Linked DNA regions of Homo sapiens: region 1 is linked to region 2. Evidence: fine-mapped expression QTL. A gene starts in region 2. The other region holds a variant in brackets. All regions are shown on one strand. Distances are from middle to middle. Region 1 has its middle 20 kb from the start of GALNTL5. Region 2 holds the start of GALNT11 (polypeptide N-acetylgalactosaminyltransferase 11).

What was found.
Region 1: its variant is fine-mapped to the expression of GALNT11 in neutrophils (BLUEPRINT, PIP 0.95).

The regions. Positions count from the first base shown.
Region 1 is chr7:151,932,776-151,941,113 of GRCh38, reverse strand. No RefSeq gene overlaps it. Among named protein-coding and RNA genes, the nearest start is that of GALNTL5, 20 kb to the left of the region's middle. RefSeq lists enhancers at 7,641-7,690, 7,711-7,810. The variant T/C (reference allele first, on the strand shown) is at 4,934.
Region 2 is chr7:152,022,048-152,030,385 of GRCh38, reverse strand. GALNT11 (polypeptide N-acetylgalactosaminyltransferase 11) reads right to left here and starts at 4,712. Exons shown (of 12, transcript NM_022087.4): 1 at 4,502-4,712. RefSeq lists silencers at 4,178-4,877, 5,728-6,022.

The DNA of each region.
Region 1 (8,338 bases), 89 kb after region 2:
ACGGGGTATTTAGACCTGAGTAGATTCTCTATCCAGGGCCCTTGAACCACTGCTTGGACCCACTCCCACCCTGTGGTGTGTACTTTCCTTTTCAATAAGTCTCTGGTTTTGTTGCTTCATTCTTTCCTTGCTTTGTTTGTATGTTTTGTCCAATTCTTTGTTCAAAATGCCAAGAACCTGGACACCCTCCCCCAGTAACAAAATTATATTAAAAATCCAAGAGCAGAGCTGAGAAACACTGAAGTGGCCCAGGACTGGTGGCCGCTCTCCCAGCATCTCTTGAGTCTCCTCTCTGGGGCCCTGGCTTTCACCTCCCACAGCCCCCACTGGATGCTCCAGCGTGTGCCCACGCCCAGCGCCCCCCACTCCGCCCTGCACCCTCCCGGGCCCTCTTGCTCTGGCTCTCCCTCTTATCTTTCTTCCCTTCTAACTCACTAATCTAATTTTCAATTTGCCAAACAGATTCCCAATAAAAAAATCTTTCTGAGCTAGACAAGACAACTCCTCTGTTGCTGGCAGCCTCATCCATGGGCTGTCCTGAGTCCAGCTCCAGTACTTGGTCCAGGCTGCTCTGGCAGGGACCCAGCCATGAACGGATGCAAAGGAACATGGTTTTCATCTGCGCTTCTCTGATTTCGGATGAAGCTAAGCTTCTCTTCTTGTTTGGTGCTCTTTGGGGTGTCTTCTTCTATGAATTGCCTATCTACATCTTATCCCTTTTTCCACTTTCTGTCTTTTTCCTCTTGATTTGCATGAGTTCCTTGAATTTTCTAGGCACTAGTCCCTTGTCAGCTTTGGATATTGCAAGCGTGTTCTCCCATTCTGTCCTCTGTCTACAGGGATACCTCAGAGATGTTGTGGGTTCAGTCCAGATTACTGCAATAAGGCAAATATTGCAATAAAGTGAGTCACACATTTTTGTGGTTTCCCAGTGCATATAAAAGTTATGTTTCTATACTGTAGTCCATTTAGTGTGCAATAGCATTATGTATAAAATGTACTGTATTAATTAAAAATACTTTATTGCTAAACAATGGTAACAATTATCTGAGCCTTCATGGAGTTGTAATCTTCCTTTGGTGGAGGGTTTTGCCTCGATGTTGGTGGCTGCTGACTGATCAGGGTGGTGGTTCCTGAAGGTTGGGGTGGCTGTGGAATTTCTTAAAATAAGACAGTAATGAAGTTTGCTGTATCCATCGACTCTTCTTTTTTAATTTTTTTCTACCCCTGCCCTTCCCCTGACTCTTCCTTTCACAAAAAGATTTTTCTGTAGCATGTGATGCTGTTTGATAGAATTTTACCCAGAGTAGAACTTCTTTGAAAATTGGAGTCAGTCCTTTCAGACCTTGCCACTGCTTTGTCAGCTAAGCTTATGTAATATTCTAAATGCTTTGTTGTCGTTTTAACAGTGTTCATAGCTTCTTCATCAAGAGTAGTTTCCATGTCAAGAAACCACGTTCTTTGCTCATCCAAAAGAAGCAACTCCTCATCCTTTCAAGTTTGATCATGAAATTGCAGTTCAGTCCCATCTTCTATTTCTCTTGCATTTCCACCACATCTGCAGTGACTTCCTCCACTAAAGTCTTCAACCCCTCAAGGTCATCCATGAAGACTGGAATCAACTTCTTCCAAACTCCTCTTAATGTTATTATTTTGATCTCCTCCCATGAATCACGAATGTTTCTAATGGCATTTAGAATGGTGAATCCTTTCCAGACGTTTTCAATTTTCCTTGCCCAGATCCATCAGAGGAATCACTATCTATGGCAGTTATAGCCTTATTAAATCTATTTCTTAAATAATAAGACTTGAAAGTAGAAATTAGTCCTTGATCCATGGGCAGAGAATGGTGATCGTGTTAGCAGGCAGGGACACGACATTTATCTCCTAGCACATCTCCCTCAGAGCTTATAGGTGACCAAGTGCATTGTCAATGAGCAGTAATATTTTGAAAGGAATCTTTTCTTCTGAGCAGTAGGTCTCAACGGCGGGCTTAAAATATTCAGTAAACCATGCTGTAAGCAGTTGTGTAGTCATTCAGGCTTTGTTGTTCCATTTCTAGAGCACAGGCAGAATAGATTCAGCATAATTCTTAAGGACGCTAAGATTTTCAGAATGGCAAGTGAGCACTGGCTTCAGCTTAAAGACACCAGCTGCATCAGCCCCTAGCAAGAGAGTCAGCCTATCCTTTGAAGCTTTGAAGCCAGACATTGATGTCTTCTCTCTAGCTATGAAAAGTCTTAGATGGCATCTTCTTCCAATAGAAGACTGTTTAGTCTACATTGAAAATTTGTTGTTTAGTGCTCCTGTCTTCATCAATGATCTTAATTAACTAGATCTTCTGGAAAACTTGTTGCAGCTTCTCCATCAACACTTGTTGCTTCATCTTACACTTTTTTATGGAGCTGGCTTCGCTCTTTAAATCTCATGAACCAATGAGGTTCAAAAGCTTCAAACTTCCTTCTGCAGCTTCCTCACCTCTCTCAGCCTTCAGAGTGGAAGAGAGTTAGGACCTTTCTCTGGATTCGGCTTTGGCCTAAGAGAATGCTGTGGCTGCTTTGATCTTCTATCCAGACCACTCAAACTTTCTCTGTATCAGCAATAAGGCAGTCTCACTTTCTTATCATTTGTGTGTTCCCTGGAGTAGCAGTTTTAATTTCCTTTAAGTACTTTTTTTTTGAGATGGAGTCTTGCTCTGTTACCCAGGCTGTAGTGCAGTGGCATGATCTTAGTTCACTGCGGCCTCCACCTGCCAGGTTCAAGTGATTCTTCTGCCTCAGCCTCCCAAGTAGCTGGGATTACAGGTGCACACCATGCACACCACCACGCCCGGCTAATTTTTGTATTTTTAGTAGAGATGGGGTTTCATCATGTTGGCCAGGCTGGTCTTGAACTCCTGACCTCAAGTAAGCCGCCCGCCTCAGCCTCCCAAAATGCTGGGATTACAGGCGTGAGCCACCGTGCCTGGCCAAGAACATTTTCTTTGCACTCACAATTTGGTTAACTGTTTGGCACAAGATGCCTAGCTTGGGGCCTATCTCAGCTTTCGACATGCCTTCCTCACTTAGCTTAATTACTTCTACCTTTTGATTTAAAGTCAGAGGCCTGTGACTCTCCTTTTCACTTGAACACTTAGAGGCCATTGCAGGGTTATTAATTGTCCTAATTTCAATCCCCAGGGAACAGGGATGCACAAGATGAGGGAGACAGACAGAGGAATGGCCAGCTGGTGGACCAATTAGAACACATACAACATTTATCAATTAAGTTCACTGTCTTATATGGGACCCCCAAAACAACTACAGTAGTAACATCAAAGACCACTGATCACAGATCATCACAATGATATAATAATGAAAAAGTTTTAGATACTGCAAGAATTACCAAAATATGACACAGAGACATAAACTGAGCATGTGCTGTTGGAAAAATGACACCAACAGACTTGCTCAAAGCAGGGCTGCCACAAACCTTCTATTTGTAAGAAATGCAACATCTGGGAAGTGCCATAAAGCCAAGCATGTTGAATAAAAGCCTGAATTAACTTTGTCAGTGGGCCACTAGTTGACCAGAAATTTTTCATTCTGATGTACTAAAAATCATCTTCCTTTTTTTTTTTGCTTACAGCTTGTGTTTTGAAATTTTAAGAGGTCCTTCCCCACCCTTGGATCGCAAGGAAGTGTGTCATCACCATATTCTGTTAACTTATCATTTTACTGTTCATATTCGGTATTGGCTTCATTTTGAATAGTCCTATGTATGTGATGTTGGTTTTTTACCCCTGCAGACACTGAAATGACTTCTAAATATCCACAAGTAACTCGTCCTTTCCCCACTGATTCCTGGGCTGTCTTTATCATGTAATGATTCCCATGTAATATAGTCTCTCTCTGGGCTCCCTCTCCTGTTCCCCTGGTCTGTGTGTCTGTCCTTGGTTTTGTGTTGTATCTTAATTCCTAGTTGAGCAAGTTTGACTTAGCATTTCATGGATTTTTATACTTCCATAAAAAATTTAAATCAGGGCCAGGCGCAGTGGCTCATGCCTATAATCCCAGCACTTTGCGAGGCTGAGGCGGGCGGACCACTTGAGGTCAGGAGTTCGAGACCAGCCTAGCCAACATGGCGAAACCCCGTCTCTACTAAAAATACAAAAATAAGCTGAGCTTGGTGGCACATGTCTGTAGTTCCAGTTACTTAGGAGGCTGAGGCAGGAGAATCACTTGAACCTGGGAAGCAGAAGTTGCAGTGAGCTGAGATCACACCACTGCCCTCCAGCCTGGGTGACAGAGTGAGACTGTCTCAAAAAAAACCCCAAAAAACAAAAAACAATTAAGTCAGGTTTTCAAAGTCCTTAATAGGATGGTTGAAATTCTGATGGGAAATCTGAGTAGCATAAAGGCATTCTAAGTGGGGAAATGATAGGCGTGAAGGTAGGAAAAATGAGTAAGTCAAGGTTAAGGCACGTGACCCATTTTTGATGAAGCTAAAGGTATCGAGGTATCTTAACATCACCAAGTTCTTTCTCTTTTCACAGTTTAACAAAGTTAAGATCAAGGTATCAGTTATACTTTTATTGTATAAAAGCACATAAGATGACCTATATCCTTTACTCATGCCAAGAAAACTACCTGCTTTACCCACTCTGCTCTTGATGCGCTGTTTAAAAAGCAGTTTCACTTCCATAGCAACACATTCGTTTCCTTTCCACTTCCTGTAATACTTGCTAACTTTCACTTCTGGTTTGTTTTGACTCCTCTATTTTGGAAGTCATTTCGTTTTCAAGTAAAGTAAACATGAACAACTCTAAAATACAACTTATACCTCTGTGTCTTAGTCGAAACAATACAAACACCCTAGCACTTTTCATCTTTAATTCAACTAGACGTTCACTACCAGATGGCATACTAGGCCCGTTGAGTTTTGCATTACTTAG[T/C]TCCTTAAAAATAAAAGGAGAGAGGCTGGGGCCGGTAGCTCATGCCTGTAATCCCAGCATTTTGGGAGGCTGAGGCGGGTGGATCACTTGAGGTCAGGAGTTCGAGACCAGCCTGGTCAACATGGCAAAACCCCATCTCTACTAAAAATACAAAAATTAGCTGGACGTGGTGGCACATGCCTGTAATCCAGCTACTTGGGAGGCTGAGGCACGAGAATTGCTTGAACCCGGGAAGCAGAAGTTGCAGTGAGCCGAGATCATGTCACTGAACTCCAGCCTGGGCGACAGAGCGAGACTCCATCTCAAAAACAAACAAACACACACACACACACACACACACACACACACACACACACACACACAACAGGGAGAAATAAAAGCAAAGTGCTCAGGTCAGGCTCTGGTCAAACCAGGGCAAAACAGACAGCTCCCCAGGGAGCTCAGGAGGAATTCCCAGCTCCTGCAGGGCTGAGCAGAGAGACCAGCTGGAGAATACACTTCCTTTTCCCTCTTCTTGTCTTCCACCTGGCCCTTATTTCCATTTCTGCTTTGTCTCCAGGCAGGTGCACACTCCACCTTTTCTCATTGATGTGATGGTCCCCACTCCTCTGTCCTGCCAGATTTAGGTCAGCTGTTCTGAGCACACGGCAAAGCAGCTTTAGACTCCTGCACTGTCGAAAAACACTCGCTGAGCCTGAGTAATTGCAAGGAAAACGGATGCATGCTGTCAGATCCTCCACTGCTATTTTCTCACACTGAAGTCTATTTTTCTTAGGTATCTAGATACCTTTAATTTCCATTTCTCTCACTCCTTTCTTGCCATCTGTTCATTTTATTATTGTTCCTTATTTATACATTAACATTAAATATACTCTTTTGAACGTATAATAATGACTTTCATAATTAAAACATTTAAATGGCTTATTCCTTCTTTCTTCGAACTATTTTTATCTACTTATTTATTTTGAGATGGAGTTTTACTCTGTTGCCCAGGCTGGAGTGCTGTGGTGCGATCTTCGCTCACTGCAACCTCTGCATCCTGGGTTCAAGTGATTCTCATGCCTCAGCATCCCAAGTCGCGGGATTACAGGCATGTGCCACCATGCCCAGCTAATTTTTGTATTTTTAGTAGAGACAGAGTTTTGCCATGTTGGCCAGGCTGGTCTCGAACTCCTGACCTCAGGTGATCTGCCTGCCTCAGCCTCCCAAAGTGCCGGGATTACAGGCATGAGCCACCGCACCCAGCCTCTTTCTTCTGATCTTCGTTCTCAGCTCTCACCAAACTGGCTTAGAGACTTCACTAGGAAGATGTGTCCTCCGCCATCCCAGAATTCTACAGGTAAGTCTTTCACCATCTTTATAGCCCAGTGGTCAAATAGCAGCTCGGGATCAGACAGGTGAGGCTGCATCAGTTTCACTTCCGCTCTGCAGTTCATTATCTGTGTGGCCTTGGGCAGCGTCCGGGACTTCTCTGATTTCCTGTAAACCAGGCTTGCTAATGCTGCCCCCATAAGATTGTTGTCATTTTAAAACAAGAAAATTCAGGCAATTCGTGTAACCTGGTGCTTGGCACATGGTGAAGGCTCGATTAATGGTGGCTACTGCTCCTTCCACCTGGCTGCCCACTGGGAGGACAGATGACAGGAAAGGAAAGAGCTCTGCTGACGGTCGGAAGGTAACGTAGTACCATCCTCTATGAGCAGTAAAGCTGAAGAAGCCCAGTATAATGAGCCAGCACTCCCCTTTTAGGATATTCTAGAAAAGTTCCCATATACAGACAAGGAGGCAAGGCCAAGTGTGTTCACCACAGCATTGTTTGTTATGAGGAAAAATGGAAATAACCTAAATGTCCCAGAATAAGAGAACTGGTAAATATGTTGTGATATTTATACAACCAATAGCATACAGAAGAGGAAAATGAATGAAACAGAAACACAAGGAAAAACTTCAAAAGTATAATATTGTGGGAGAAAAACAGATTGCAGAATAATACATGCAGTGTGACAGTAACTTCTTATAAAATTTCAAACATATAAAACAGCAGTGTGCATTGTATTGGCACACATACATGTAGAGAAGTATAAACATATGTATGGGAGTAATACAGATAAATTCAGAACCATGATTACTTTAGGGAGAGGATATATTTAGGGACCCTCAACTGTATCTATTTTACCTTTTTAAAGGATCTGAAGTAAATGTGGGGCAAAATGTTAAGATCTGATAAAGCTGGTTTGTGGGTGCATGGGTATTTTTATATTATTCTCTATATACATTTAAAAAGTCTGTAATATTTCATAACAAAAAAACTAATGGTCTTACATGTTGAAATAGTACTCACAGAAATTAATTCCTTATAACCTATAACATTCTTCATTGTATCTATTAAATATGATTGGTTTTGGCGGGGGGGCGGGGGGGCCGTGGTTCACACCTGTAATCCCAGCACTTTGGGAGGCCGAGGCAGGTGGAGTCAGGAGTTTGAGACCAGCCTGACCAACATGGTGAAACCCTGTCTCTACTAAAAATACAAAAATCAGCTGGGTGTGGTAGTGGGCGCCTGTAATCCCAGCTACTCAGGAGGCTGAGGCCGGAGAATCACTTGAACCCAGGAAGCGGAGGCTGCAGTGAGCCGAGATCACACCACTGCACTCCAGCCTGGGCAACAGAGCAAGCCTCTGTTAAAAAAAAAAAAAAAGACTGGTGTCTTTTATTTCATAGATGGTCCACAAGAGGGAGATCTAGAATAATTATGTGTAAGGAGAACAGCCTCCTAGGGCTTGTCGGGAGTGCTATGGAAACCAGGTGTCATCGGACAGTCCTACCGCCCTCTGGCAGGAGAGGCGATGCCCCTACCCCTTGTTCCCAAACCTACACAACAACTCCTTACGGCAAAGAGGACACATCACAGGGCGCAGTGACAATCTGAACCGTGTTGTGTTTTCTTGTTTTGTTTTGTTTGAGACGGAGTCTCGCTCTGTCGCCAGGCTGGAGTGCAGTGGCGCGATCTTGGCTCAGTGGAACCTCCGCCTCCCGGGTTCACGCCATTCTCCTGCCTCAGCCTCCCGAGTAGCTGGGATTACAGGCGCCCGCCACCACGCCCGGCTAATTTTTATATTTTTAGTAGAGACGGGGTTTCACCATGTTAGCCAGGATGGTCTCGATCTCTTGACCTTGTGATCCGCCCGTCTCTGCCTCCCAAAGTGCTGGGATTACAGGCGTGAGCCACCGCACCCGGCCTGAACAGTGTTTTAAAAAACACAATGTAACAAATTGTTGGCAGAGTAAGTAACACCCAGCAGCTAGAGGAAGGGAGTTGAGAGTGCAGGCAAACAGGCGCGACCCACGGGTGTCCCTGGCACCTATGGCGGGTGCTCCCTCCATTCCTTTGGGACGCTTCCTAAG
Region 2 (8,338 bases):
CCATACAGGGATAGGAGCTGAGGGGACATAGTGAGAAGTGACCAGAAGACAAGAGTTGAGGCTTCTGTTATGCTCGGACAGGGCCACCAGAGGGCTCCTTGGTCTAGTGGTAACACCAGCGTCCCGTGATCTAGCGGTAGCATCAGTGTCAAGGAAAAACACCCGCTACTTAGCAGACCAGGAAAGGGAGTCTCCCTTTCCCCGTGGGAGTTTACAGAAGACTCTACTCCTCTACCTCTTGTCTTTTCTTTTATCTCTGTCTTGTGTCTTTATTTCTACACTCTCTCGTCTCCGCACACGGGGAAAAAACCCACCGACCCTGTGGGGCTGGACCCTACACCCTATTCCTTTAAAAGCCACAGTAAAGTTAAAACCTATAACTGATAATTGAAGGCCTTCTCTGTAACTCTGTAACACTCCAATACCACCTTGTTGTCAGTGTAAACAAGGGCGTAGCCCAAAAGCACTGAGGCCACTGACAACCCATAGCCTTCCTATCAAAAATCCTTAACCCAGCAGGTTTCCTAACAGGGGATCTAAATCTTAACTAACTACCATACAAAGGTCCGACCAGATCTAGGAGGAACTCCCTTCAGGACAGGACCATAGATGGTTCCTCCTGGGTGATTAAGGAAAAAAGACACAAGGGGTATTCAGTAAATGATAAGGGAACTGTAGAAGCAGAGTTAGGAAAACTGCCTAATAATTGGTTTGCTCAAATGTGCGAGCTGTTTGCACTCAGCCAAACCTTAAAGTACTTACAGAATCAGGAAGGAGCCATCTATATCAATTCTAAGTTAATATGGACTGAACGAGGTCTTATTAATAGCAAAGAATAATTGAAATCCCAAACTTACAAGGTTTTCAACAAAAGTAAAGTTTGCTAAAAGTTAACAGTGTAAACATATATTATTCTAACTTCTAATCTTGTGGAAATCAGACCCTATCAGTACCCCTCAAAGCTCAAGTCCGTCAGTGCAGAGCCATACAACTAATACCCCTACCTATAGGGTTAGAAATGGCCACTGCTACAGGAACTGGAATAGCCAGTTTACCTACTTCATTATCCTACTACCACACTCTCAAAGGATTTCTCAAGAGAGTTTGCAAGAAATAACAAAATCTATCCAGTAAGGATAGTAACTACAATTCCAAATAGACTCTTTGGCAGCAATGACTCTCCAAAACCACCGAGGCCTAGACCTCCTCACTGCTGAGAAAGGAGGACTCTGCACCTTCTTAGGGGAAGAGTGTTGTTTTTACACTAACCAGTCAGGGATAGTATGAGATGCCACCCAACATTTATAGGAAAAGGCTTCTGAAATCAGACGCCTTTCAAACTCTTACACCAACCTCTGGAGTTGGACAACATGGCTTCTCCCCTTTCTAGGTCCTGTGGCAGCCATCTTGCTATTACTTGCCTTCGGGCCCTGTATTTTTAACCTCCTTTTCAAATTTGTTTCCTCTAGAATTGAGACCATCAAGCTACAGATGGTCTTACAAATGGAACTCCAAATGAGCTCAACTAAACTTCTACCAGGACCCCTGGACCAACCTGCTGGCCCTTTCACTGGCCTAAAGAGTTCCCCTCTGGAGGACACTACAATTGCAGGGCCCCTTCTTCACCCCTATCCAGCAGGAAGTAGCTACAGCAGTCATTGGCCAAATTCCCAACAGCAGTTGGGGTGTCCTGTTTAGAGGGGGGGGATTGAGAGGTGAAGCTGGCTGTGCTTCTGGGTCGGGTGGGGACTTGGAGAACTACTCTGTCTAAAGGATTGTAAATGCACCAATCAGGGCTCTGTGTCTAGCTAAAGGTTTGTAAACACACCAATCAGTGCTCTGTGTCTAGCTAATCGGGTAGGGGACTTGGAGAACTTTTCAGTCTAGCTAAAGGATTGTAAATGCACCAATCAGTGCTCTGTGACTAGCTAACTGGGTAGCAGACTTGGAGAACTTTTCTGTCTAGCTAAAGGATTGTAAATGCACCAATCAGCGCTCTGTGTCTAGCTAAAGGTTTGTAAACGCACCAATCAGCACTCTGTAAAAACCGACCAATTAGCACTCTGTAAAACAGACCAATCAGCACTCTGTAAAACAGAGCAATCAGCACTCTAAAATGGACTAATCAGCTCTCTGTAAAATGGACCAATCAGCAGGATGTGGGTGGGGCCAAATAAGGGAATAAAAGCAGGCCACTGGAGCCAGCAGCGGCAACCTGCTCGGGTCCCCTTCCATGCTGTGGAAGCTTTGCTCTTTCATTCTTTGCAATAAATCTTGCTGCTGCTCACTCTTTGGGTCTGCACTAACTTTATGAGCTGTAACACTGACTGTGAAGGTCTGTGGCTTCACTCCTGAAGTCAGTGAGACCACAAACCTACTGCGAGGAACAAACAACTCTCGACATGCCACCTTTAAGACCTGTAACACTCACTGCGAAGGTCTGCAGGTTGACTCCTGAAGTCAGTGAGCTCATGAACCCACTGGGAGGAAAAAACAACTCCAGACGTGCCACCTTTAAGAGCTGTAACACTCACTGCAAAGGTCTGCGGCTTCATCCCTGAAGTCAGCAAGACCACGAACCCACCAGAAGGAAGAAACTCTGGACACATCTGAACATCAGAAGGAACAAACTCTCGACATACCATCTTTAAGAACTGTAACACTCACCGCGACAGTCCGTGGCTTCATTCTTGAAGTCAGCGAGACCAAGAATCCACTGGAAGGAACCAATTCCGGACACATTTACGCAGCAGCCACGTCAGACTGGGACACTTCCTGCTTACAGAGGACTATAAAACCCCTTCCTCACTTGGGGCTGATGCTATTATAAAACCCATTCCTCACTTGGGGCTGATGCCATTTAGGCATAAACCCGTCTGCACCCAGGCGCTTATTAAAACAGCATGTTGCTCCACACCGCCTCATGTCGTGGGGGTTGTTGGTGCGTCATCGGGGTTCAAACCAATACAAGAGCCTTGCAGGTTGTTTGTAGCACTAACAAAGGATAAATGCTTGAGAAGATGGATACCCTGCTTATCCTGATGTGATTATGCATTCTATGCCATATCAAATATCTCATGTACCTATAAATACATATGCCTACTATGTACCCACAAAAATTAAAAATAAATTTTTTTGAGATGGAGTCTCGCTCTGTCACCCAGGATGGAGTGCAGTGGCGTGATCTCGGCTCACTGCAAGCTCTGCCTCCTCGATTCACGCCATTCTCCTGCCTCAGCCTCCCAAGTAGCTGGGATTACAGGCGCCTGCCACCACGCCCGGCTTATTTTTTGTATTTTTAGTAGAGACGGGATTTCACCGTGTTAGCCAGGATGGTCTTGATCTCCTGACCTCGTGATCCGCTCGCCTTGGCCTTCCAAAGTGCTGGGATTACAGGCGTGAGCCACCGCACCCGGCTAATAAAAAAATTTTTAAAGAGATTTATTCTGAGCGAAATGAGTGTCTATGGCCCATGACACTGCCCTCAAGAGATCCTGAGAGCATGTACCCAAGGTGGTGGGGGCACAGCCTAGTTTTATACATTGTAGGGGAACATGAGTCTTCAATCAAATACAGGTATAGACTAGTTCGGGCAGGAAAGGTGGGACAACTCAAAGTGGCGGCTTCCAGGTCATGGGTAAGATGAGAGACAAACGGCTACATTCTTTTGAGCCTCTGCTCTGCCTTTTACTGAACACACAATTTACGCCATGGGGCAGGCAGAGGAATAGCCACTTGTGCCTTAGTCTGGCTCAGTGAATCTGCATTTTTACATAAATACAGGGCAGAGGAAGCCGTCAGACATGCATCTGTCTCAGGTGAGCAGAAGGATGACTTGAGTTCTGTCCCTGTTCCTCACCTGCGAAGACAAGCTGTCAATTTACACTGCCAGGGTGCAATTCCACACAACTGTTTCAGGGTAAAGATGTGGAGGTCCACAGCGAATTTCCTCCTGGCCAAAGGGTGAGGGAGCTGTGTGGCTTTTTATCTTTGCAGCTGTCTTAGGAACAAAACTTAGGGGCAGGTTTGCCTGACGCAGCTCCCAGCTTGACTTTGGCTTAGTGATTTGGGGTCCCGAGATTAAATTTCCTTCCACACTATTCTCCCTAGTTTTGTGTATGTGTGAACTATTCTATTTCTGGGCACTTTTAATTTTAAAAAGTGGACAATACTGATCTGGACTTCATTTTAGGAAATGCTGGGGGAGGCTGCAGGATCAGGTGTGCCTCCGTCCTAAATACGCGAAAACGAGGCCAGCGCCCTGGTCCTCGCCCCCACGCCCGCGAACAAGCCTCAGGAGACGCTGGGGGAGGCGCGGGGGCAGCGGCGTCTCCCGGAGACACGAGCCTCGCCCAGGGGGCGTGCGGGAGCCCAGGACCCGCGGGGAGCCAGGCGCTGCCCCGCCGCCGCCCCCAGCCTGCCCAGGCCCCGCGCGCCGCCGCCGCCGCAGCTCTCGAGGTGCTGAGGGACGCCGGGAGGCCGCCGCCTAGAGGGTACTCACCGCCTTGCCCGCAGCCCAGGATCGCCGCCTTCTGGGACTCGGGCTGCGGCATCTTCTCTCCCGCCACAGCCCCAGTCCGACCCGCAGGAGCGGCGCGGGCTGAACTGCCCCGGGGCCCAGCAGCCAGGCGTCGCGCAGGCGCTGGGCGCAGTGGCGGCCGCGCCTCCTCAGGCCCAGGGCCCTCGCCCAGTCCCCGAGCCGCTGCCTCCGCCCAGCGCCGCGCGTCCGCCGGCGCCGCGTGACAGGCGGCCCCGCCCCCGCGCCGCGGTGACGAAACCTCTCGCTGCCCTGACGTCACCGGCCGCCGCGCGCTGAGTCCTCCCTAGCGTTCGCGCAGAGGCGCCGCGCGTGGCCTGGCTCCTGTTGTCTGTCACCCGCGGTCTCAAAAGACCCCATTAATGACAAATGCCCTGCCTGTGGCCCCGGCTACTCCGGAGGCTGAGGCGGGAGCAGCGCTTGAGCCCGGGAGCTCTGCGCTGTATGCGCTGTGCCCATTGCGCGGCGACACGCATCTGTGTTCCGCATCGGTGTGGTGACCTCCCGGGAGCAGGGACCACCAGGTTCCCCAAGGAGTGGGGAACTGGCCCAGCTCGGAAACCGGGCAGGGCAAAACTCCTGTGCTGATCGGTAGCGGGATCGCGCCTGTGAATAGCCACTGCCCTCCAGCCTGGGCAATACAGCGAGACCCCATAAGTGAAAAAAAAAAAAAAAGACAAATGCCCTTAAACATATTAAAAGAAGTTAAACGCCACTTGTGATAGAAGAAAATGTAGATTAAGGTGTAAAGAGAGAAGTGGTGAAAAAAACACTCATACCTTGGTGATAATAGTGCAATGTATACAAATACCATAAAAGGGGAATTGGCAATTTTTAAGAAAAATGGTGTGGGCATTCATCTTTGGCCAATAATGCCAAGTTATATTGAAGAATATCTTAATACTAATCTTCTTTGCATTTCTGAAATAAATCCCACTTGGTTAAGAATATTTTTGAACTTTTTTAAAGAACTCATTGCTTCACAATTAAAGTCTGATGGGGTACACGCGTAGCAATGGAGGAACTTCTACAGCTACTATAAATTAAAGAGCACCACCTGAACCAAAGTAGTGGCCTTCTTGAGCTGAACTGAGCTAACCACATTCCCCAGCCCCTCTTCCACAGATACCCCATGGGGTTGTCAGGGTGTAGGGGATGCCATGTTGTACCACCCAGGTTTCCCCTTAAGGACTGAGGACTCATTTCTCCAGTTGTTGGGTGTGTAGGCCGCTGATGGCCCCCAGCTGAGTCTTGTGGCCACTTCCCTCAGCCAAAGAGAACTGCTGCTGGGTGCCAAGTTGAATGCTTTTGACTCCTTCTACCATGCTTGTGTCTTGATTGGAGATTGACAGATATTTCAGGTACTGGTTTCTCTTGCAAGGGCAGTGCAGACAGCACACAGGTATCTTTGCCCAGTTTCCTTCAATGGTTGCAGCTCATGTAAAATATACATAGTATAATATCAAATAAGCGTCATTGGGGATCAATCCTGCTGGGATCCCCCTCAGAAACTATTCACAGCAGTGGCAGGCAAACTAGGGCAAAGTCTACTAGGTATATTTAAAAGTGTATTACAAGTTTATTTAAATACATAAATATGTTTCCAGAAAGTAATCCTTCCAACTACCTAAACTAGTAATGAAAAATGTTAAATATCACCTTAAATATGTATAAGGGGATACTAAGTTCTTGTATTTAAACCTTATTATTTTAGTATATACTCAAGCAAAAGAGTTTGAAGACCAGACCTTTAGGGCCTCACTACTCAAATGGTGGTCCAGCAACAAGCGACACCAACGTCACCTGGAGTGTGTTAGAAATGGGGAGTCTTGTGCTCCACCTACTTAATTAAAATCTGCATTTTTACCAAGATTTCCAGGTGATTTATACACAAATTAACATTTGAAATCATGCTCTAGGATTAATCAGGGCATGTAAATTTCCATTGTTTCATCTTCTCCTGACCCTTGATAGTATCAGATATTTAAATATTTGCCAACCTGATGAGTATGAGATGCATCTGTTTATTACTTTAAATACTATTCTACCTGATTAATGTGCAATAATTACTTAACCATTATTCTCGTAATTGAGGATTTGGGTTAGCTCCAATTTTTCACTATCATACAGAATGACACTAAAATGCTCTTTTCAGCGTATCATTCTGGTTAAACACAATCTTTGAGGCCACGCTGATTAGGATCATGTAAGGGCCGTGTTATTGTTTGTCCTTGGATACAGTTGCCAGATGAAATACAGGATGGCCTGAAATTTGAATTCCAGATTAAGAATAATTTTGTGGTTTAAGTATATCCTGTGCAATATGTGAGAGGCTTGTCTTCATCTGTGCTGCCATAATAAAATACCTGAGACTAGGTAGTTTAAAAACAAATTTGTTTTCCCACTCTCCTGGAGGCTGGGAAGTACAAGATCCAGCAGCCGTATCTGGTAGGCTGCTGGTGAGGGCTTTGTGCTACATCATAACGTGGCAGAGAATCGGAAGAGGAAGCGCGCACTGGCTAAAGGGGCAATGTTACTTATTAACAACCCGCTCTCAAGGTACCTAATCCAGTCTCAAGAGACTGGGAACTCTCAGTGACTGCGTTAATCTTTTCATGGGGGGCTGGTCCCTCATGGCTCAAATGCCTCTTAAAGGTCCTACTCTGTCTCAACACTGTTACCCTGGGGTCCAAGCCTCAACATGAATTTTGGTGGGGATAAAAGGTATTCAAACTGTAGTGCTGTTGCTTTGTCAGTTGTTTCAACATGAATTATGGAAGACACATTCAGAATGTAGCCATATGTACAGTAAAATGTTATTGTCTATTTGAAATTCAAGTTTAACCAGGCATCCTGTATTTTTATTAGCCAAATAGGGCAACGTTAACCTGGGCACATTCTAACCATCGTTTTCTCATCTATGAAATGAGGATAGCAGTAGAACTCATAAAGTTGTTGTATGAATGAAAGGAGATAATCCATGCAGACTACTTATAACAGAGTATGAAACGTAGTAAAAGCTCAGCAAATGTCAGCTCTTCTTAGTTGTTGTTTCATACAGGTGTGTCTTGGGATAAATTCCTAGAAGGATGTTTTAGTTACAGAACTCCTGGGCTTAATTTCAGACTTGTTTGAGCATTCCATCATACCAAAAACTGTTTTGTAAGAAACCCTAAGCAGGTTACCAGATACTTTTCAACTAGCTTCAAAATACAAATCAGATTTTTAAATTTCCACACAAAAACAAAAAATTGCCATCTATAGGCAAGTATCAATTTCCCTTTAATCACACCAAATATTTGGATATTGATTCTGATTTCTTTTCTATTTTAGGGTCAACTGAAGCAATATTTAAGAAGATACTGTCCAAGGGACATGCTGAACAATTTCTAGGACTTATCTGTGTTATCTAGTACCTAAACTAAATTACATTACAAAACTAAGACTTAATATTAGGCCCACGGCTTTTAACAAAAGAGAACACTCCTGTCTTTTGCTTTTGGGAAAGCTGATATTTACAGCATCCATTCTTTATGCTTACCAGAAAAAAAATATACTTTTTAATGTTACATATATATCATTTATATATTACATATAATAATTATATATAACATATATATATTCTCAAATTTCAACTAGAAAAAAACTGTTACTTTAAGAAGATACTCCATATTTATACTACTATAATTCTCTTTTATTTTTTCAGCTACAAGATTTCTATTTTGCTTTTTGTTTGTTTGTTTTTTGAGACAGTCTCTGTCACCCAGGCTGGAGTGCAGTGGTGTGATCTTGGTCTTGGTC